Linked DNA regions of Homo sapiens: regions 2, 3, 4 and 5 are each linked to region 1. Evidence: fine-mapped expression QTL. A gene starts in region 1. Each other region holds a variant in brackets. All regions are shown on one strand. Distances are between the middles of the regions.

Region 1 (4,116 bases):
CAGACCAGCCTGGCTAACATGGCAAAACCCGTCTCTACTAAAAATACAAAAATTAGCTGGGCGTGGTGGTGCACGCCTGTAATCCCAGCTACTCCAGAGGCTGACACAGGAGAACTGCGTGAGCCCAGGAGGAAGAGGTTGCAATGAGCCAAGATCGCACCACTGTACTCCAGCCTGGGTGACAGAGCGAGACTCCGTCTCAAAAAGAAAAAAAAATAGATAAATAAAATGACAACAGGAAGGCCTGTAGGGATTTTCTAGTCAAAACACCTCATGTCATAAATGGTAAATTAAGGCCACGAAGTCACAATAGGGGACGGCACCAGGAGGCATATCCCGGCCTCCCCCATTCCTTGACCAGCCTGTCCTCTCTGGCAGGCCTTGTTTAGGGCAACACAGGCCCTGGGCACCCCACCCTACCTGAAGCAGTCTGCGTGCCAGTCCGCGTTCAGGGCCTGGAGGTACTGGCCATCATAGATCCTCTGGCCGCAGCTTGCACACACGGGCAACTCGCTTCCTGCAGGGTGGGAAGGGAGTTGGGAAGCATTCTCAGGAAGTGTGATCTGGTGCAGGCCCAGCTTGCCCTGCCCACCCCACATATACCTACACCTGCACCAATCCTCGCACACTGCACATGTGCAGCGCCCAGGCAGGGCAGTCGCTGTGCCAAATAGGAGAAGAAAGGGCGCTGGCCTGAGTCTTGCTGAGATACTGACTAGGTTGCCAAGCTTCTCTGGCCCTGTTTCCCTATGTATCAGCTTAGGAGGAGGATCAGGTCCATCCTCCCGCTATAGCATTGGATCTGGCAAGGTAAATGAGGAGAAAGGAAGCAGTGGCTTTAGGGATAAGGCAGTGGGTGACATTCCTATCACAGCCTCCTTTCTTCCCTCTCCTGCCCAGGAAGAAGTACTAAGAGGGCCCTTCAAAGGCAGGGACTGGACAGGGCTGGATTAGTGCATCCTGGGCTGAAGCCAGCTGGGAGGTCAAGGGCAGGAAGCCTGGAGGTGCCGGCCCTAACAGATCCTTGGCAATGAATGCCCTGGCTTGGCAAGGGGAGGGGGCTGCAGACCTGGGTACTCCCAGACACCTGTCCCAGGGAGGCCTGGCACCTCCTCTAGCCAGCCACAGGCATGCTTAGTCATCCTTGGGGCCTGGCACCCTTGGAGCTGGTGGGCCCTGGAAAATGCCCCAGACCTGCCCCTCTCCACTGTACAGAAGGGGAGACTGAGCCCCAGAGATGGCATGGCTTGCCCAGTCACATAGCTAGGTCCCAAGGCCACAACAGCCTGACCCTCTGTGAAGACGCAGGTACCTTAGGTAGGCAGGGGCTACAGGAAGGTGGGCCCCTACCCCAATCAGGTTTTCATGGGCCTGGGAAGAGTTGGTGGCAGGGGGAGGTGTGGAGTCAGGCCCTGCCTTGGGGCCAGGTGGATCTAAGTGACAGGTCAGCGAAGGAGATCCAAGGAGGGGCCCCCAGACCCTGTCCTAGGCTGGGGGAGTCCTTGAACCCTAACTGCAGTGCAGTACTGCGCCTTGGGCCCCAGTGAGGGAGAAGGGGCTAAAGAGGAGGTTAGGATGAGTCATGCTCCCAGCCAAGACTGAGGGCAGGCACCGGGTTTGGGGCACGGACAGGGAGAGTGGATGAGGCTCCCGCAGTACACGGCCTCCGGCTTCCTGGACGCCTATCTCCGCTCTACCCATCTGGCCCCCAATCACCGACACCGGGGGGGCAACTACCCAGTTTCCAAATGTACAGAAGGGGAAACTGAGGACCAGGAAGTCAGCGCCTGGCTCAAGGTCACAGAGCCGGGCAGGCGCCCGGCGGCCACTGGGACCCGGGGCTGCGGCTTCCCCAGCCGCTCTTTCTTCCGAGACTGGATAAAGGGTGGCCCCAGGGCGAGGCCCGGGTGGTGGACAGAGCACGCGGATGGAGGCCGACGCGGGGTGGGCAGTGTCTGGGAGTCCTTCGCGGGGGGACGTGGGAGGAGGAAAAAGGGTCCAGGGGCCCCCAGACCCGCAGGAGGGCAGCTCGCCGGGGGCCGGGGAGGGGGATCCCGGGCGGGAGGGGGACAGGGAGGGGCCTGCGGGCTTCGTAAGGACGAGCTCATCCCGGAGGAGGCAGGGGCGCGGCCTCCTGGCAGACCCGGCCCCCTCCCGTGCCCCACGCTGCCCCGGGCACCCCCTCCAGGCCCTCGCCCCACACCCCGCGGCCCGCGCACCTTCCTCTCCCATACGTTCTTCCCTCCAGGTGCAACAAAGTAGCGTCAACCTCATGCACTCGACGGGGGGCGGGGCCCGGCGGGGCTGGGGCTGGGGGCGGCCGGGCCCGCGAGCTCGCCCACCGCCGCCGGCCCGGGGAGGCGGGGGCGGAGGGCGCGGGCCGGGCCGGGCCGGGCCGGGGGCGCCTCTCGGACACCGGCGGGGAAACCGGCTCGGCGCCGCGGCGGCTTGGGGAGCGAGCGGAGGGGCGGACCGAGGCGGGGCCTGTGAGCTGCGGCACGGGGGCGGGGCGCGGGCGGCCGGCGGCGGGAACGGCCCTGCGCGGCCCCGCCCCCACCAGAAAACCCCGCCCCCACGCCCAAGGCCACGCCTCTAGAGGCCACGCCCCGCTGCGGCCCGGCCTGGGGGCGCCGCGAGCTGGCGCGGCGCGCCCCGCCCCTCCCCGCCCCTTCCGCCCTTCATTCATTCTTCTTTCTCCCAGCGACAGGCCTCGGCTGGGAGCTGCGAGGCCCAGCTGTCTCGGAGGGCCGCTAGCTCTGCTGGGGCAGGCCAGGAGGATGTAGGAGCCTAGAGAAGGGGCCTCCGCTTCCCTGCGCGAGGCCCCCACAGACCCAAACCAGCTGCAGCCGGGAACTCGGATCAGAGCTGGAGAGGCCCTGTGGACCCCCAGGACACTGGTGGTCGCCTTGGGGAGGGGAGGGAGGCGGGCCGGGTTTTGTCCCTCTCTCTGAGGCCTGCATTGAGGCCAGGCTGGGCCCGGGGAAGGTGACGGTCCGCGTCTCAGGCCTCGCGAATGAGCAGCACCAGAGAAAGGAGCGAGCCCCTGCCAGGCGGTGACAGGTGTACTCTTCTCAGTGCCGATTACCTGGAGCTGGGGCTGCCCTGCCCAGGGTCCTGGAGGGAGCACGGGTTTGGGCTGAGTCAAGCGTCCAAAGGAATTGGGTGGTCCAGTCCAGCACTGATGGTGGAACGCCCTGCCTAGATGTGGACAATTCTAGAATGCTGGACATGGGCAGGAAGCAACCCTGTCCCCCCTAGGTCTACCTTCCACGTCATCCCTCTGCCCAGGAAGCAGTGACCGGAGTGGAGCCACGTGCCCACGTGAACCCAGTGAACAAGAGGCAGCGCTAGCCCAGCTCCAACTCTAGTCATCATGTTTGTGGGGAGAGGTCTAGGCACGTCTGCAAAGTGGGGGGCACTCACCCCTGGGTGCAAAACAATTACGTGGGGTGGGAAGAAAATACTAGATTTTTTTTTTCTTTTTTTAGATTCGGTCTCGCTCTGTTGCCTAGGCTGGAGTGCAGTGGCGGGATCTCGGCTCACCGCAGTCTCCACCTCCCAGGTTCAAGCAATTCTCCCACCTTAGCCTCCCGAGTAGCTGATATTACAGGCGTGCACCACCATGACCGACTAATTTTTGTATTTTTAGTAGAGATGAGGTTTCACCATGTTGACCAGGCTGGTCCTGAACTCCTGACCTCAGGTGATCCACCCTCCTCGGCTTCCCAAAGTGCTGGGATTACAGGTGTGAGCCACCACGCCTGGCCAGAATTTTTAATTTCTCATGAGAAAGAAGGCTGGGCACAGTGGCTCACACCTATAATCCCAGCACTTTGGGAGGCCAAGGTGGGAGCATCACGTGGGGCCAGGAATTGGAGATCAGCTTAAGCAATGAAGTGAAACCCTGTCTCTTCTAACTTTTTTTTTTTTTGAAATGGAGTTTCACTCTTGTTGCCCAGGCTGGAGTGCAATGGTGCGATCTCAGCTCACAGCAACCTCCACCTCCCGGGTTCAAGCCATTCTCCTGCCTCAGCCTCTGGAATAGCTGGGATTATAGGCATGCACCACCATACCTGGCTAATTTTGTATTTTTAATAGAGACGGGGTTTCTCCATG
Region 2 (4,116 bases), 55 kb before region 1:
GAGACTCCATCTCACAAAAAAAAAAAAAAAAAAGAAAGTAAAGGAACAAAGAATGTCTACTCCATAGGCAGAGCATCCCCTAAGGTTGCTGGCTGGATATTTTTTATAGTTATCTCTTGATTACATGCCCAACAAGGGTGGATTATTCATGAATTTTCTGGGAAAGGCACGGGCAATTCCTGGAACTGAGGGTTCCTCCCCACTTTTTTTTGAGACAGAGTCTTGCTCTGCCACCCAGGCTGGAGTGCAATGGTGCAATCTCAGCTCACTGCTACCTCTGCCTCCTGGGTCCAAGCAATTCTCCTGCCTCAGCCTCTGGAGTAGCTGGGATTACAGGCGCCCGCCACCATGCCCAGCTAATTTTTGTATTTTTAGTAGAGACAGGGTTTCACATCTTGGCCAGGCTGGTCTTGAACTCTTGACCTTGCAATCCACCTGCCTTGGCCTCCCAAAGTGCTGGGATTACAGGCATGAGCCACTGCGCCCGGCCGGTTCCTCCCCTTTTTAGACAATATAGGGTAACTTCCTGATGTTGCCACGGCATTTCTAAACTGTCATGGCACTGATGGGAGTGTCTTTAGCATGCTAATATATTATAATTAGCACATAATGAGCAGTGAGGACGACCAGAGGTCACTTTCTTTCTATTTTTTGAGATGGAGTTTCACTCTTGTCATCCAGGCTAGAATGCAATGGCACGATCTTGGCTCACTGCAACCTCCGCCTCCCGGGTTCAAGCAATTCTCCTGCCTCAGCCTCCTGAGTAGCTGGGATTACAAGCATGTGCCACCACGCCCAGCTAATTTTTTGTATTTTTAGTAGAGACGGAGTTTCTCCATGTTGGTCAGGCTGGTCTCAAACTCCTGGCCTCAGGTGATCCGCCCGCCTGGGCCTCCCAAAGTGCTGGGATTATAGGCGTTGAGCCACCGCACCCAGCCTACCAGAGGTCACTTTCATCGCCACCTTGGTTTTGGTGGGTTTTGGCCGGCTTCTTTGCTGCAACCTGTTTTATCAGCAAGGTTTTTTGTCACCTATGTCTTGTGCCACCCTCCTGTGTCATCCTGTGACTGGGAATGCCTCACCTCCTGGGAAAGTAGCTCAGTGGTGATGCAGGGTTTTTCTAGGCACCTTCGCTGGACTCATGGAAGGGATGCCCCATCTACTCAGCCCCCTGTGCTCAACCCCTTGCAGGAGGGAGCACACAAGTGACTAAGTGTGGGATCTGGCCAGCTGGCTTCTCCAGGCACCAACACAGGAGCAAGCTGTATGCAGGGCCCATGGCCAGAGCAGGCATGTCACCTTGAGGGGAAAGCAGCAGCACCTAGGTGAGGGTGCCCGTGTCCCCGAAGCTGCAGAGGGGGTGTTATTACAGTGCTCCTTTAGTTCTGCTGTCCACAGATGGTGACATGTCAGCAGATCAGCTGGCCCCTTGCCTCATCACATGGGGACAGCTGCCCTTCACAGGCGAGGGCAAAGGCCCAGTGTGACAGCCTTTCTGGGTATCCTCACTCACTGGGTCCCAAGCTCTTGTCCAGCATCCAGGAAGAATGAAGTTACACGGACGATTGAAGGATGATGAAGGTGGAGAATTTTATTGAGCAATGAAAGCGACTCTCAGTGGAGAGGGGAGCTGGAGAGGGGATGGGAAGTGCAGGCTGCCTTCCCCGAAGTCAGGTCGTCTTTTCCCCTGCTGACTGAGTCTGGAGCCTTTATAGGCACAGGGTGGGGAGTGTGTGCTGATTGGCTTGTGAGTATGCAAAAAGGAGTAGTCCCAGCTATTCAGGAGGCTGAGGCTTGCTTGAGGGATCCCTTAAGTCCAGGAGTTGGAGGAATGTCTTTTGTTATTTATAATGAGTCCTTTTGATCACACTGGAGTTTATGCTAATGAGGTGAGTTAAAGCAAAGACACTACTCAAAGGTGGTCATGAAAGAGTAGAAAACCGCCGGGCACGGTGGCTCATGCCTGTAATGCCAGCACTTTGGGAGGCCAAGGCGGGCAGATCACAAGGTCAGGAGATTGAGGCCATCCTGGCTAACACGGTGAAACCTCATCTCTACTAAAAAATACAAAAAATTAGCCGGGCGTGGTAGCAGGCGCCTGTAGTCCCAGCTACTGGGGAGGCTGAGGCAGGAGAATGACATGAACCCGGGGGGTGGAGATTGCAGTGAGCCGAGATTGCACCACTGCACTCCAGCCTGGGTGACAGAGC[G/A]AGACTCTGTCAAAAAAAAAAAGAAAGAGTAGAAAACCAATTAGGAAAGGGTGGGTATATGTAAAATAGGCGAAGGGTGGGGATCAATCAGAGGAAAGCGCGACAAACAGGAAGGTAAGCTCTCAATCCGGTCTAAGGTTTAAACTTGTACCTTCAGTTTCAGGCTTTAAACCGTCTTCGGGTTGGAGGTGGGGTTTCACCGCGGACCCGCCCCTATTGGCCTAGGCAATTGGCTGCCTCCTGTCAATATCAGCAGGTCTCAGCCTCATTTTACCCACCCCCTATTCAAGATGGAATCACTGTGGTTCAAACTCCTCTGACAACAGTAGCTTGCTCCAGATCACACAGCTAATACAAATTGACTCACAAACTCTGGTCTACCCATCATTCAAAGAGGCAGGAAGGTATAGGCCAAACACAGGAAAAGCAGCAGTAACGATAAACTGTGTCTAAAAGACCGTCTTTTCCCCCACAGCACAGGATGAAGTTGAAGTTACTTTCTCTGCCTAAGATCCAGACATCCCCCCTCAACAAGGAAAACAATTGTTTTTTTTTCTTCTCCTTTCTATAAAATCAAGAATGGAACCACACCTGAACAGACTCTTCCGCAAGATAATGTCTCCCTCAGGCTCATTGAAATTCCAAAGAGAATTATGTACAAGTTAATCTCTGTTCCTAAATCCATTCATTCTCCCCAGCAATGTTTATTTTTATTTTTATTTTTATTTTTATTGAGATGGAGTCTCACTCTGTCACCCAGGCTGGAGTGCAGTGATGCCATCTCAGCTCACTGCAACTTCCTCCTCCTGGGTTCAAGTGATTCTCCTGCCTCAGCCTCCTGAGTAGCTGGGATTTCAGCTATGTGCCACCATGACTGGCTAATTTTTGTGTTTTGAGTAGAGACAGGGTTTCGCCATGTTGGCCAGGCTGGTCTCGAACTCCTGACCTCAAGTGATCTGCCCACCTTGGCCTCCCAAAGTGCTAGGATTACAGGCATGAGCCACTCTGCCTAGCCCCCAGTAATCTTTTATGTCCCCTCAATAGAATTCCTCTTTCTTCCCCCTGCCATAACCTGTTTTACCAGGATCCAAACCCCTATTCTTTCTGTATCTGCAAGATAGTATATCTATATCTATAGATATCGATATCTATAGATATATATACACATGTCTATATATATAGATATGTATACATATAGATATAGATATATAGATATCTATAGATATAGATATGTATACATATCTATATATATGTATATAGTGCCAGGCACAGTGGCTCATGGCGGTAATCCCAGCGCCACTTTGGGAGGCCAAGAGGGGAAGATCACTTGAGTGCAGGAGTTCAAGACCAGCCTGGCAACATGGCGAAAACCCAGTCTCTACTTAAAAAAAAAAAGAAGATGGTATATAAGCGTCTGAACGCCTTTGGGGTGGTGGGTAATCACGCTGTGGTGTGGTTCTCCCCAGATACGTGTGAATGCAATTTGTATCCCCCTTTTTCTAATTAATCTGCCTTTTGTGAGCTGATTTATCAGCAAACCTTCAGAAGGTGAAGCAGAAGTTTTTTCCTTGGTTCCTACAATCTCACTTCTATGCACATAACAAAATTTCACATGCACCCTATAAATATGGACAGCTACGATGTATTAATAATATTAGGCTGGGCATGTTTGCTCACACCTGTAATCCCAGCACTTTGGGAAGCTGAGGCAGGAGGATGGATCACTTGAGCCCAGGAGTTCAAGACGAGCCTGGGCAACATAATGAGACCCTCATCTCTACAAAACATAAAAACATTAGCTGGGCATGGTGGTGCACTCCTGTAGTCCTAGCTACTCAGGAGGCTGAGGTGGGAGGATTTATTGAGGCCAAGAGTTTGAGACCAGCTTGGGTAATATTATGGGACT
Region 3 (4,116 bases), 180 kb before region 1:
TCTCGTCCCACCCTCTCACCCCACAGCCTGCGCAGTGCATCCCTGAACCTAGGATAGTCCCTGGAGTATAAATTGTTGTCTTGGTTGGAATCTCAAAGATTCAGAATTTTCCTTTTTTTTTTTTTGAACCGCTTGAACCTTGGAGGGGGAGGTTCAAGCGTTTCTCCTGCCTCAGCCTTCTAAGTAGCTGGGATTACAGGCACCCGCGACCATGCCCAGCTAATTTTTGTGTTTTTAGTGAGAGACGGGGTTTTCACCATGTTGGTCAGGCTGGTCTTGAACTCCTGTCCTTGTGATCCACCCACCTTGGCCTCCCAAAGTGCTGGGATTACAGGCATGAGCCACCGTGCCTGGCCTTTTTTTGTTTTGTTTTGTTTTGATTTTGAGAAGGGCCGTGCTGGATCACCCAGGCTGGAGTGCGGTGGTGCTATCAGAGCTCATTGCAACCTCGAACTCCTGGGCTCAAGCAATACCCCCCACCCCCTATCTCAGCCTCCCAAGTAGCTGGGACTGTGGGTGTATGCTGCCCAGCCTGGTTTAGGATTTTCAGAATGACACCCAGCATCCAACAGCCTCAGGTACGAGGAAAACATTTCTACCTGTGAGATACGACCTTCTTGGAATAGACACTCTCAGGGCTTCCCGAAGAATGTGGTGAGCGTGTCTGCACAGAAGCAGGCGTGCTAAAAACAGAGCATGGTTTAAAATGCCCACGGCACCTTCTACAGGTAATGAAACCCACACTTGGAGATTTCTGGGGTTAGGAACATAAAATACACCTCCCAAATTGGAGCACCAGCTGGCCAGATTAGACCGAGGTGCACCGCTGTATTTCCAGTGGATATGGTGTTGGAATGGTGGATACAACCTTGTTTTGAGAATAATGAGATTGCTGTTGAAAAGGAATGTCAAGCTACTTAGGTGAGGTGTCATCTTTTCTTATACGCAGTTAATCACTCCCTAACTGATCCTGCGTGGACATGTAGATGTTTGTTTTTTTTTCAGTATAGAACTTCTTAGCTTAAAGTGGGCTCGCTGTCAAAATATCTCATGTCACAGATAACCCATCAGGAAGAAGAAGAAAAAAACCCCGACCTGCTAAACAGCCTAAAAAGGGCATGCTGGGGCACTCAGGTTTCTGGTAGGAAAGTCCTCAATCCCCACTCACAGCCCGCTGACCCTGCATTTTTTTTTTTTTTTTTTTTTTAAAGATATGCTCTCATTCTGTTGCCCAGGCTCTGGAATGTAGTGGTGCAATTATGGCTTACTGCAGCCTTGACCTCCTGGGGTCAAGCAATCCTCCCACTTCAGCCTCCCAAGTCGCTGGGACCACAGGCACATGCTACCATGCTCAGCTAATTTTTGTTGTTGTTGTTAGAGATGGGGTCTTGTCATGTTGCCCAGGCTGGTCTTGAACTCCTGGGCTCCAACAATCCTCCTGCCTCAGCCTCCCAGGTAGCTGGGACTACAGGCACACACCACCACACCTAATTTTTTTTGTTTTAATACAGAGTCTCACTCTGTCACCAGACTAGAGCGCAGTGACATGATCTTGGCTCACTGCAACCTCTGCCTCCCAGGTTCAAGCAATTCTCGTGCCTCAGCCTGGCTAATTTTTGTATTTTAGTAGAAACGGGGTTTCGCCATGTTGGCCAGGCTGGTCTCAAACTCCTGACCTCAAGTGATCTGCCCACCTCAGCCTCCCAAAGTGCTGGGATTACGGGCATGAGCCACCACACCTGGCCTAATAATTTTTTTAAATTATTTTTTATAGAGACAGAGCCTTGCTATGTTGCCCAGGCTACTCTGGAACTCCTGGGCTCAAGTGGTCTTCCCACCTCAGCCTCCCAAAGAAACATTAAAAAAAAAAAAAAAAAAAACAGCCGGGCGTGGTGGTTCACCCCTGTAATCCCAGCACTTTAGGACGCCTAGGCAGGCAGATCACGCGGTCAGGAGTTCAAGACTAGCCTGGCCAACATGGTGAAACCCTGTCTCTACTAAAAATACAAAAAATTACCCCGGCCTGGTGGTGGTGTGCGCCTGTAATCCCAGCTACTCGGGAGGCTGAGGCAGGAGAATCGCTTGAACCCAGGAGGCGGAGGTTGCAGTGAGCCAAGATCGCACGCACCACTGCACTCCAGCCTGGGCAACAGAGCGAGACTCTGTCTTGAGGGAAACACACACACACACACACACACACA[G/CAG]ACACACACACAGGATTCTATCAGGAGTCTATGCTGCTTTTTCTGGACTGTATTTTTTTAGGGGTCACAGAGACCTCTTTCCCTGTCAGTACAGGCAGACAGCCTTCATTTTTCAGTGACTGTATAGTATGAATGTACCATAATTTACCTATGCATTCTGACACTGATGGGCATTTATCTCATTTCCTTCCCCTCTTCCCCCATTCTAAGCTGCTGCAATGAACATCCTAGTACATATATATCTTTGTGCACATGTGTAAGCATTTATGTAAGACAAGTTTCTAAAAGCGGGCTTCTGGGTCAAAGAGTGTATACTTCTAAAGCATTGCTAGAAACTGACAAATTTAATGTACGATTTGTAGAGAAAAGAAAAATGGGCAGACAAGTCACAGAAGAGGAACTACAAAAGGTCGACACACATAGTAAAATGCTCTACAAGACAATGAAAATTGAAACAGGCTGGGCACGGTGGCTCACGCCTATAATCCAAGCACTTTGGGAGGCCGAGGCATGCGGATTGCTTGAGTCCAGGAGTTCAAGACCAGCCTGGGCAACATAGCAAGACCCTATCTCTACAAAAAATACAGGCATGGTGATGTGTGCCTGTGGACCTGGCTACTGGGGAGGCTGAGATGGGAGGATCCCCTGAGCCCAGGAGGTTGATGCTGAATTGAGCTGTGATTGCACCACTGCACTCCAGCAGGTGACAGAGTGAGACCCTGTCTCCAAAAAAAGCAAATTGAAATAGCACTCATATATATACACATGTAATATCTATTGCATGTAATACATTTATATATATACATGTAATATCTATTGCATGTAATATATTTATATGTATACATGTAATATGTATTACTGTGATATATTTACATGTATATATTTGCACAGGAGATTAGTAAACCAAAAAAAATGCATTCTTGGCTCTCATCCACCATTGGTGGAGGGATAAATGGGATAAAATGAACTGAGCTTGGTGCTCTCTAGTCCCCCACCCCTCATCAGATTTAGAAGGGGCCACAGGTGACCGGGCATGGTGGTTCATGCCTATAATCCCAGCACTGTGGGAGGCCAAGGCAGGCGGATCACTTGAGGTCAGGAGTTCGAGACCAGCCTGGCCAACATGGTGAAACCCCATTTCTACTAAAAATACAAAAATTAGGTGGTGTGCGGTGGCTCACGCCTGTAATCCCAGCACTTTGGGAGGCCGAGGCGGACAGATCACGAGGTCAGGAGATCGAGACCATCCTGGCCAACATGGGGAAACCCCGTCTCTACTAAAAGTACAAAAATTAGCTGGGCGTGGTGCCACGTGCCTGTAATCCCTACTCGGGAGGCTGAGGCAGGAGAATCACTTGAACCAGGGAGTCAAAGGTTGCAGTGAGCCGAGATCGCGCCATTGCACTCTAGCCTGGCGACAGAGCAAGACTCCGTCTCAAAAAAAAAAAAAAAATTAGCTGGGCATGGTGGCAGGCGCCTGTAATCCCAGCTACTCAGGAGGCTGTGGCAGGAAAATCGCTTGAACCCGGGAGGCAGTGGTTTCAGTGAGCCGATATTGGACCACTGCACCCCAGGCTGGGTAAGAGAGCGAGACTCTGTCTCAAAAAAAAAAAAAAAAAAAAGTGGTTGCAGGAAGGTCAGGGCTGATGTGCTCACTGAGGACAGGAAGGAGGGAATGCTTAGATGAGTAAACAGACTAAAATTAGAAGTAAAGAATCCAAACAGCCTATGACCTAGGCCGTATAGTGTGGGGGGAGCAGCCTGTCTCCCATCCATCGTCTCTGGGGTCAGCCCACATCATGATGCATAAACATTTGACCTCTATACCATCAGGAAAAGTCCTGTACCCTTTTCGTTTTCAAAGAAGGCAAGAGACCAGGCCAGTGGCTCACGCCTGTAATTCCAACACTTTGGG
Region 4 (4,116 bases), 49 kb before region 1:
GAATAGCCGGGCGCAGTGGCTCACGTCTGTAATTCCAGCACTTTGGGAGGCTGAGGCAGGTGGATCACCTGAGGTCAGGAGTTCGAGACCAGCCTGGCCAACCTGGTGAAACTCCATCTCTATTAAAAATACAAAAATTAGCTGGGTGTGGTGGTGCATACCTGTAATTCCAGCTACTCGGAAGGCTGAGGCAGGAGAATTGCTTGAACCTGGGAGGCAGAGGTTGCAGTGAGTCAAGATTGTGCCACTGCACTCCAGCCTGGGCAACAGAGCGGGACTCTGTCTCGAAAAAGAAAAAAAAAAAAAGAATAGGAAAGGAATAAAGAGTGACTCCTCCATAGGCAGAGCAGTGGCATGGGCTGCTTGACTGAGTATACTTACAGTTATTTCTTCATTCTATGCTAAACGAAGTATGGGTTATTCATGAGTTTTCCAGGAAAGGGCAGGGATTTCCCAGAACTGAGGGTTCTTCCTTCTTTTAGACCATATAGGGTAACTTCCGGGTGTTGCCGTGGCACTTGTAAACTGTCATAGTCCTGGTGGGAGTGTCTTTTAGCATGGTAATGTATTATAATTAGTGTATAATGAGCAGTGAGGATGACCAGAGGTCAGTTTCATCACTGTTGGTGGGTTTTGGGGCTGGCTTCTTTACTGCGTCCTGTTTTTGTTTTCTTTTTTTTTTTTTTTTTTGGGATGGAGTCTCGCTCTGTTGCCCCGTCTGGAGTGCAGTGGTGCGATCCTGGCTCACTGCAACTTCTGCCTCCCGAGTTCAAGCAATTCTCTTGCCTCAGCCTCCTGAGTAGCTGGGAGTACAGGTGCCTGCCACCATGTCTGGGTAATTTTTGTATTTTTGGTAGAGACAGGGTTTCACCATGTTGGCCAGGCTGGTCTTGATCTCCTGGCATCAAGTGATTTGCCCGCCTCAGCCTCCCAGAATGCTGGGATTACAGGAGTGAGCCACTGTGCCCTGTCAGCATCCTGTTTTATCAGCAGGGTCTTTGTGACCCGTATCTTGTGATACCAGTCCTGCCAACCTTCTGTCTCATCCTGTGAATAAGAATGTCTCACCTACTGGGAATGCAGCCCAGCAGGTCTCAGCCTCATCTTACCCAGCCCCTATTCAAGATAGAGTCACTCTTTTTCAAATGCTTCCTTCCAAAAACAAAGGATAACAGGCTGGGCGCAGTGGCTCATGTCTGTAATCCCAGCAGTTTGGGAGGCTGAGGTGGGCAGATCACTTGAGGTCAAGAGTTTGAAACCAGCCTGGCCAACATGGTGAAACCCCGTCTCTACTAAAAATACAAAAATTAGCTAGGGGTGGTGGCACATGCCGATAATCCCAGCTACTCGGGAGGCTGAAGCAGGAGAATCACTTGAGCCCAGGAGGCGGAGGTTGCAGCGAGCCGAGATGCCATCACTCTACTGCAGCCTGTCCAGCAGAGTGAGACTCTGTCTCAAACACACACACACACACACACACACACACACACACACACACACACACACACCACAAAGGATAACAGGAGACAGGAAAATTAGAGGACCATCTGAATCTTAATGTTTTCAAGGTGATTGCAAAAAAAAAGGGGAGAGACAAAGAAGATATGAAGTATTCTGTAAAATGTAAAAAAAAAAAGTCTAAGACCTCAGTAGAGAAAATTATGAAATATTTGTTCACAAAACTTATGCATTTTTTTTTTTGAGACGTAGTTTCGCTCTTGTTGCCCAGGCTGGAATGCAATGGCACAATCTCATCTCTCTGCAACTTTCGCCTCCCGGGTTCATTGATTCTCCTGCCTCAGCCTCCTGAGTAGCTGGGATTACAGGCATGCACTACCACACCCGTCTAATTTTGTATTTTTAGTAGAGATGGGGTTTCACCATGTTGGCCAGGCTGGTCTCGAACTTCTGACCTCAGGTGATCCACCAGCCTCGGCCTCTCAAAGTGCTGGGATTACAGGTGTGAGCCACTGTGCCTGGCCTTCCCGTCTCTCTTTTTTAGTATATCTGCTGCCAAAGGGAGCACCCGTCTCTCTTTTTAAAAAAAAAGAAGGAAGGGGCCGGGCGCGGTGGCTCACGCTCACGCCTGTAATCCCAGCACTTTGGGAGGCCGAGGTGGGCGGATCATGAGGTCAGGAGATCGAGACCATCCTGGCTAACACGGTGAAACCCTGTCTCTACTGAAAATACAAAAAATTAGCTGGGCGTGGTGGCGGGCGCCTGTAGTCCCAGCTACTCAGGAGGCTGAGGCCGGATAATCGATTTAACTTGGGAGG[T/C]GGAGCTTGTAGTGAGCTGAGGTCCCGCCACTGCACTCCAGCCTGGGCGACAGAGCAAGACTCCGTCTCAAAAAAAAAAAAAAAAAAAAAAAAAAGGAAGGGAGGGCGGGAAGGAGGAAGGGAGGAAGGGAGGGAGGAAGGGAGGGAGGAAGGCAGGCAGAAGATCTGAAGAAACATGAGTGGCCACTAAACACGTAAAGATGCTCAACTATAGAGGAAATCAGGGAAACTCAAATTAGTACCACAGTAAGATACTGTATTGTACCTGTTAGTCTGTAAAAAATTAAAAAGATCTGGACAACGAAGAATCTGATATACTGCAAGTGAGACCATAAATCACTAGAACTGCTTTGAGAAACAATTTGGCACTTTTCTTCCTTTCTTTTCTTTTCTTTTTTTTTTTTTTTTTTTTTTTTTTCATGAGACAGGGTCTGGCTCTGTCACCCAGGCTGCAGCACAGTGGTGCAATCATAGCTTACTAGCTTACTGTAGCCTTGAACTCCTGGGCTCAAGCAATCCTCCTGCCTCAGCTTCCCAAAGTACTGGGATTACAGATGTAAGTCACCTTACCTGGCCTTTTTCTTTTTTCTTTGTTTTTGAGCTGGAGTCTTGCTCTGTTGCCCAGGCTGGAGTGCAGTGGAGCAATCTTGGTTCACTGCAACCTCCGACTCCTGGGTTCAAGTGATCCTCCTGCCTCAGGCTCCTGAGTAGCTGGAATTACAGTGATCCGTCCCAAAGTGCTGGGATTACGGGCATGAACCTCCGCACCTGGCCTTTTTTTTTTTTTAAATTTATAGAGGAAAAGGCTGGTCGAGGTGGTGTGGTGGCTCACTCCTGTAATCCCAGTACTTTGGGAGGCCGAAGCAGGCAGATCACTTGAGGCCAGGAGTTTGAGACCAGCCTGGCCAACATGGTGAAACCCCGTCTCTACAAAAAATACAAAAATTAGCCAGGTGGTGGCTGGTGCCTGTAATCCTAGCTACTCGGGAGGCTGAGGCAGGAGAATCGCTTGAACTCAGGAGGTGGAGGTTGCAGTGAGCTAAGATTGTACCACTGCACTCCAGACTGGGTGACAGAGTGAAACTCTGTCTCAAAAAAATAAAAAATAGTATAATTTAAATCCCCAAATAGGATAATTGACTTTTTTTTTTCTGTGCCACCACGCCTGTCTAATTTTTGTATTTTTAGTACAGACGGGGGTTTCACTATGTTGGCCAGGCTGGTCTCGAACTTCTGACCTCAGGTGATCCACCTGCCTTGGCCTCCTAAAGTGCTGGGATTACAGGCGTGAAGCACCAAGCCCAGCTGAGTTTGGAGCTTTAAACAAAAGAGATCCACCAGCATAAGCCCTAGTCGAATGATCTATTGATCATTAAGTGTTGCCCTGTTTATGGAAGATTTACCAATACTTGAAAAACGACTTTAATTTGGTATTGGAGCTTCTTTTTTTTTTTTTTTTCCTGAGACAGAGTCTCGCTCTGTCGCCTGGGCTGGAGTGCAGTAGCGCGATCTTGGCTTACTGCAACCTCCGCCTCCCAGGTTCAAGTGACTCTCCTGCCTCAGCCTCCCGAGTACCTGGGATTACAGGCGCACGCCTCTATGCTGAGCTAATTTTTATTGTATTTTTAGTAGAGACGGGGTTTCACCATGTTGGCCAGGCTGGTCTCGAACTCCTGACCTTGTGATTCGCCTGCCTCGGCCTCCCAAAGTGCTGGGATTACAGGCGTGAGCCACCGTGCCCGGCCTGGAACTTCTTAAAGTAGAGTTTTGAAGTTTTTTGTGAGCAGTTTTGGACCAATCCCAGAAGGAAACGTAGCATATTTTATATGCACATGATTTC
Region 5 (4,116 bases), 29 kb before region 1:
TAGGTTGATTGACTGATTGAGATAGGGTCTTGCTATGTTGCCCAGACTGGTCTTCAACTTCTGGCCTCAAGTGGTCCACCTGCCTCAGCCTTTCAAAGTGCTGGGATTACAGGAGTAAGCCACCATACCTGGCCCAATTTTATCTTTTTTTTTTTTTTTTTGAGTTGGAGTCTTGCTCTATTGCCCAGGTTGAAGTGCAGTGGCACGATCTCAGCTCACTGCAAGCTCTGCCTCCCAGGTTCACGCCATTCTCCTGCCTCAGCCTCCCAAGTAGCTGGGACTACAGGCGCCTGCCACCATGCCCAGCTAATTTTTTGTATTTTTAGTAGAGACGGGGTTTCACCGTGTTAGCCAGGATGGTCTCGATCTCCTGACCTCGTGATCCGCCCACGTCGGCCTCCCAAAGTGCTGGGATTACAGGCGTGAGCCACCGTGCCTGGCCTAATTTTATCTTGAATATTCCCAATAAGCAGGTGAGGTCTATGTTTTTTGCTTTTCGGGTTTGATTTTTTTTTTTTTTTTTTGAGGCAGAGTCTCCCTCCCGTGGCCCAGGCTGGAGTGCAGTGGCACGAACACAGCTCATTGCAGCCTCAACTTCCCAGGCTCAAGCGATCCTCCCACCTCCACCTCCTGAGTAGCTGGTACTATAGATACTCACCACCATGCCAGCTAATTTTTTAATTTTTTTGTAGAGACAAATTTTTTTATTTTTTTGCCATGTTGCCTGGCTGGTCTCAAACTCCTGGGCTCAAGCAATCTGCCCATCTTGGACTCCCAAAGTGCTGGGATTACAGGTGTAAGCCAACACAGATCTCTGTTATTTTTTATTTTTTTTGAGATGGAGTCCCACTCTGTTGCTGGAGTGCAGTGACGTGATCTCGGCTCACAGCAACCTCCACCTCCCGGGTTCAAGCAATTCTGCCTCAGTCTCATGAGTAGCTGAGACTACAGGCACCCACCACCACGCCCAGCTAATTTTTGTATTTTTAGTAGAGAGGGGTCTCACTGTGTTGGTGAGGCTGGTCTTGAACTCCTGACCTCAAGTGATCTGCCTGCCTCAGTCTCCCAAAGTGTTGGGATTACAGGCGTGAGCCACTGTGCCTGGCTTGTTGCTGTTTTAAAAACAGGGGCTCGCTCTGTTGCCCAGGCTGGAGTGCAGTGACACAATCAGAGCTCACTGTAACATTTACCTCCTGGACTCAAGGGATCCTCCCACCTAGCCTTCCAACTAGCTGGGACTACAGGCCCATGTCACCATGCCTGGCCTGACTCTAACGGTATTAAGAGGCAGGGCCTGTAAGAGGTGATTGGGTCATGAGGGCTCTGTATGAATTAACAGATTAATGGGTTATTGAGGGACCAGGTTAGTTATCACAAGAGTGGGTCTGTATAATGGTCAGTTTGGGGGTCTCTTGTCAGCCCCTCTTGCCATGTGATGCTTTTTTTTTTTTGAGACGGTGTCTGACTCTATCACCCAGGCTGGAGTGCAGTGGCATAATCTCAGCTCACTACAACCTCTGCCTCCTGGGTTCAAGCAATTCTCCTGCCTCAGCCTCCCGAGTAGCTGGGATTACAGGCATGCGCCACCATGCCTGCTAATTTTTGAATTTTTAGTAGAAACAGGGTTTTGCCATGTTGGCCAGGCTGGTCTTGAACTCCTGGCTTCAAGTGATCCACCCACTTCGGCCTCCCAAAGTGCTGGGATTACAGGCGTGAGCCACAGTGCCTG[A/G]CCTTGTTTTGTTTTGTTTTTTTGAGACAGGGTCTGGCTCTGTCTCCCAGGCTGGAGTAGAGTAGCACAATCTTGGCTCACTGCAACCTCTACCTCCCAGGCTCAAGTGATCCTCCCACCTCAGCCTCCCAGGTAGTTGGGACCATAGGCTTATGCCACCACGGCTGGCTATTCCGTTTTGTATTTTTGGCAGAGATGGGCTTTCGTAATGTTGCCCAGGCTGGTCTCAAACTCCTGAGCTCAAGCAATCCACCTGCCTTGGCCTCCCAAATTGCTGGGATTTTAGGTGTGAGCCACTGTGCCCAGCACATTTCTGTTGTTTTGAGCCATCTGGTTCACAGTACTTCATGATGGCAGCCCCAGGACACGAATACACCACCTCTCCAGATGGGCATGGTTACTCGCTCCTGTGCTTTTGGTGGAGAACCGGGCTCTCCTCCCTTGACAATCCTTAGACACTGGGCTCTTTGCCTGCCCGTCCCCTGCTTAAATATCCACCTAAAGCCTCCTCTTTTTTTTTTTGAGATGGAGTCTCGCTCTGTCACCCAGGCTGGAGTGCGGTGGCGCGATCTTGGCTCACTGCAAGTTCCGCCTCCCGGGTTCACACCATTCTCCTGCTTCAGCCTCCCAAGTAGTTGGGACTACAGGCACCTGCCACCACGCCCGGCTAATTTTTTATATTTTTAGTAGAGATGGGGTTTCACCGTGTTAGCCATGTTGGCCAGGCTGGTCTTGAACTCCTGGCTTCAAGTGATCCACCCACCTCGGCCTCCCAAAGTGTTGGGATTGTAGGTGTGAGCCACAGTGCCCATGTTAGCCAGGACGGTCTCGATCTCCTGACCTCGTGATCCGCCTGCCTCGGCCTCCCAAAGTGCTGGGATTACAGGTGTGAGCCACTGTGTCTGGCCAAGCCTCCTCTTTCAGGAAGCCTGCCCTGACCACTCCAGCCCATACGCCTATGCCCCCACTCTGTGGCCCCCAGATGCTGGTGCTGTCTGGTGTAGCCCATGGCCACTCTGCCATGGGCTGTGCTCTATGAAGACCACGGTCCTGGTCCTTTGTAGCTTACATGTCACTTTCTCCTTCATTGATTTATGAGACCCTCCTACCAGCCTGGGACTCTGATGGTCCACCATGAGTCAGTGGCAGAGACAGGACTCAAACCCAGGTCTGTCTGCCTCCTGACCCTGCGCTCTTCCCCACGGGCTGCTGCCCCCCACCCCCACCTCAAATTGAAGTCATGGAGGCAACATGGAGGGGCCTCCAGTTCTGGGAAGGCCCTGAGGCTGGGGTTGGATGGGCTCCTGCTGTCTCCTGACACCCAGCCACGTGGGGCCCTGGTACTCACCTCGCGGACCAGGCAGTTGTGGGAGTTGAGGTCTCGGTGGATGATGTTCATGGAGTGGAGGTAGGCCTAGGGACGGGGACACGGGAGTCAGGGGGCAGCTGTGCAGAGGGACCCCAGCCCATCCTGGCTCCCCAGGAACTCCCTCTGCTCCCACCCCAATCAGGCCAGTCGGGACGATTCTTCCCACTCTCCCATCGACCCCCTCTGCCCTCTTTCAAAGCTTCTTTGTGGGTTCTGTTTGCAAATTCCTGGTGGGATTATGAATGGAGCTAGAGCACCCGGCTCACTCACCATCCCTGATGCGATGTCCTTGGCAAAGCTCACTCTCTGGCTCCATGGGTACTGGCTGTCCTGGGATGGAGAAAGAATGGCCAGGGTGGGGCCGGTGGGGGCCCCGATGGCAGGGATGGTTGCATGAGACAGAGGCAGGAAGAGGCAAGCGTCCTAGAGGGTCCCTGGGCTCCCCAACACCCCGATTTCTTCGGGCACCCACAACTGTCTGCTTCTAAGGAGTATGAGTCAACACAGCTCACAGACATTATTTCCTTTTTTTTTTTTCTTTAGATGGAGTCTCACTCTGTCACCCAGGGTGGAGTGCAGTGGTACCATCTCAGCTCCCTACAACCTTCGCCTCCGGGGCTCAAGTGATTCTTGTGTCTCAGCCTCCTGAGTAGCTGGGACTATGGGCATGCGCCACCACACCCAGCTAATTTTTTGTATTTTTAGTAGAGACGGGGTTTCACCATGTTGGTCAGGCTGGTCTTGAACTCCTTACCTCAGGTGATCTGCCCACCTTGGCCTCCCAGTGTTGGGATTACAGGCATGAGCCACTGCACCCGGCCTCAAGCAATTCTCTCGCCTCAGCCTCCCAAGTAGCTGGGATTACAGGTGTCCACCACCAAACCCAGCTAATTTTTGTAGTTTTAGTAGAGACAGGGTTTCACCATGTTGGCCAGGCTGTTCTCAAACTCCTAACCTCAAGTGATCCACCTGCCTCAGCCTCCCAAAGTGCTGGCATTACAGGCGTGAGCCACCGCAC

Direction of the effects. Positions count from the first base shown, and alleles are read on the strand shown. Sizes are in standard deviations (SD) of each study's normalised expression. Not every link is listed here.
For the expression in CD8 T cells of the gene that starts at base 2,461 in region 1, G is the high allele of the variant in region 3 and CAG is the other (large effect, 2.0 SD a copy in CEDAR).

What was found.
Region 2: its variant is fine-mapped to the expression of LIMK1 in whole blood (TOPMed, PIP above 0.99).
Region 3: its variant is fine-mapped to the expression of LIMK1 in CD8 T cells (CEDAR, PIP 0.92).
Region 4: its variant is fine-mapped to the expression of LIMK1 in whole blood (INTERVAL, PIP above 0.99).
Region 5: its variant is fine-mapped to the expression of LIMK1 in whole blood (TOPMed, PIP above 0.99).

Annotation. Positions count from the first base shown.
Region 1 is chr7:74,082,149-74,086,264 of GRCh38, reverse strand. LIMK1 (LIM domain kinase 1) reads right to left here and starts at 2,461. Exons shown (of 16, transcript NM_002314.4): 1 at 2,220-2,461; 2 at 421-517. The coding sequence starts at 2,274. RefSeq lists enhancers at 1-536, 537-1,136, 1,648-1,917, 2,404-3,082, 2,978-3,087 and 1 more and silencers at 2,108-2,157, 2,268-2,317, 2,438-2,707.
Region 2 is chr7:74,136,947-74,141,062 of GRCh38, reverse strand. No RefSeq gene overlaps it. Among named protein-coding and RNA genes, the nearest start is that of EIF4H, 35 kb to the left of the region's middle. RefSeq lists an enhancer at 1,709-2,238. The variant G/A (reference allele first, on the strand shown) is at 2,211.
Region 3 is chr7:74,265,046-74,269,161 of GRCh38, reverse strand. No RefSeq gene overlaps it. Among named protein-coding and RNA genes, the nearest start is that of RFC2, 13 kb to the right of the region's middle. RefSeq lists an enhancer at 2,828-2,877. The variant G/CAG (reference allele first, on the strand shown) is at 2,202.
Region 4 is chr7:74,130,805-74,134,920 of GRCh38, reverse strand. No RefSeq gene overlaps it. Among named protein-coding and RNA genes, the nearest start is that of EIF4H, 41 kb to the left of the region's middle. RefSeq lists an enhancer at 1,071-1,858. The variant T/C (reference allele first, on the strand shown) is at 2,277.
Region 5 is chr7:74,110,960-74,115,075 of GRCh38, reverse strand. It overlaps LIMK1 (LIM domain kinase 1), which reads right to left. Exons shown (of 16, transcript NM_002314.4): 11 at 3,369-3,428; 12 at 3,078-3,143. Among named protein-coding and RNA genes, the nearest start is that of LIMK1, 29 kb to the right of the region's middle. The variant A/G (reference allele first, on the strand shown) is at 1,730.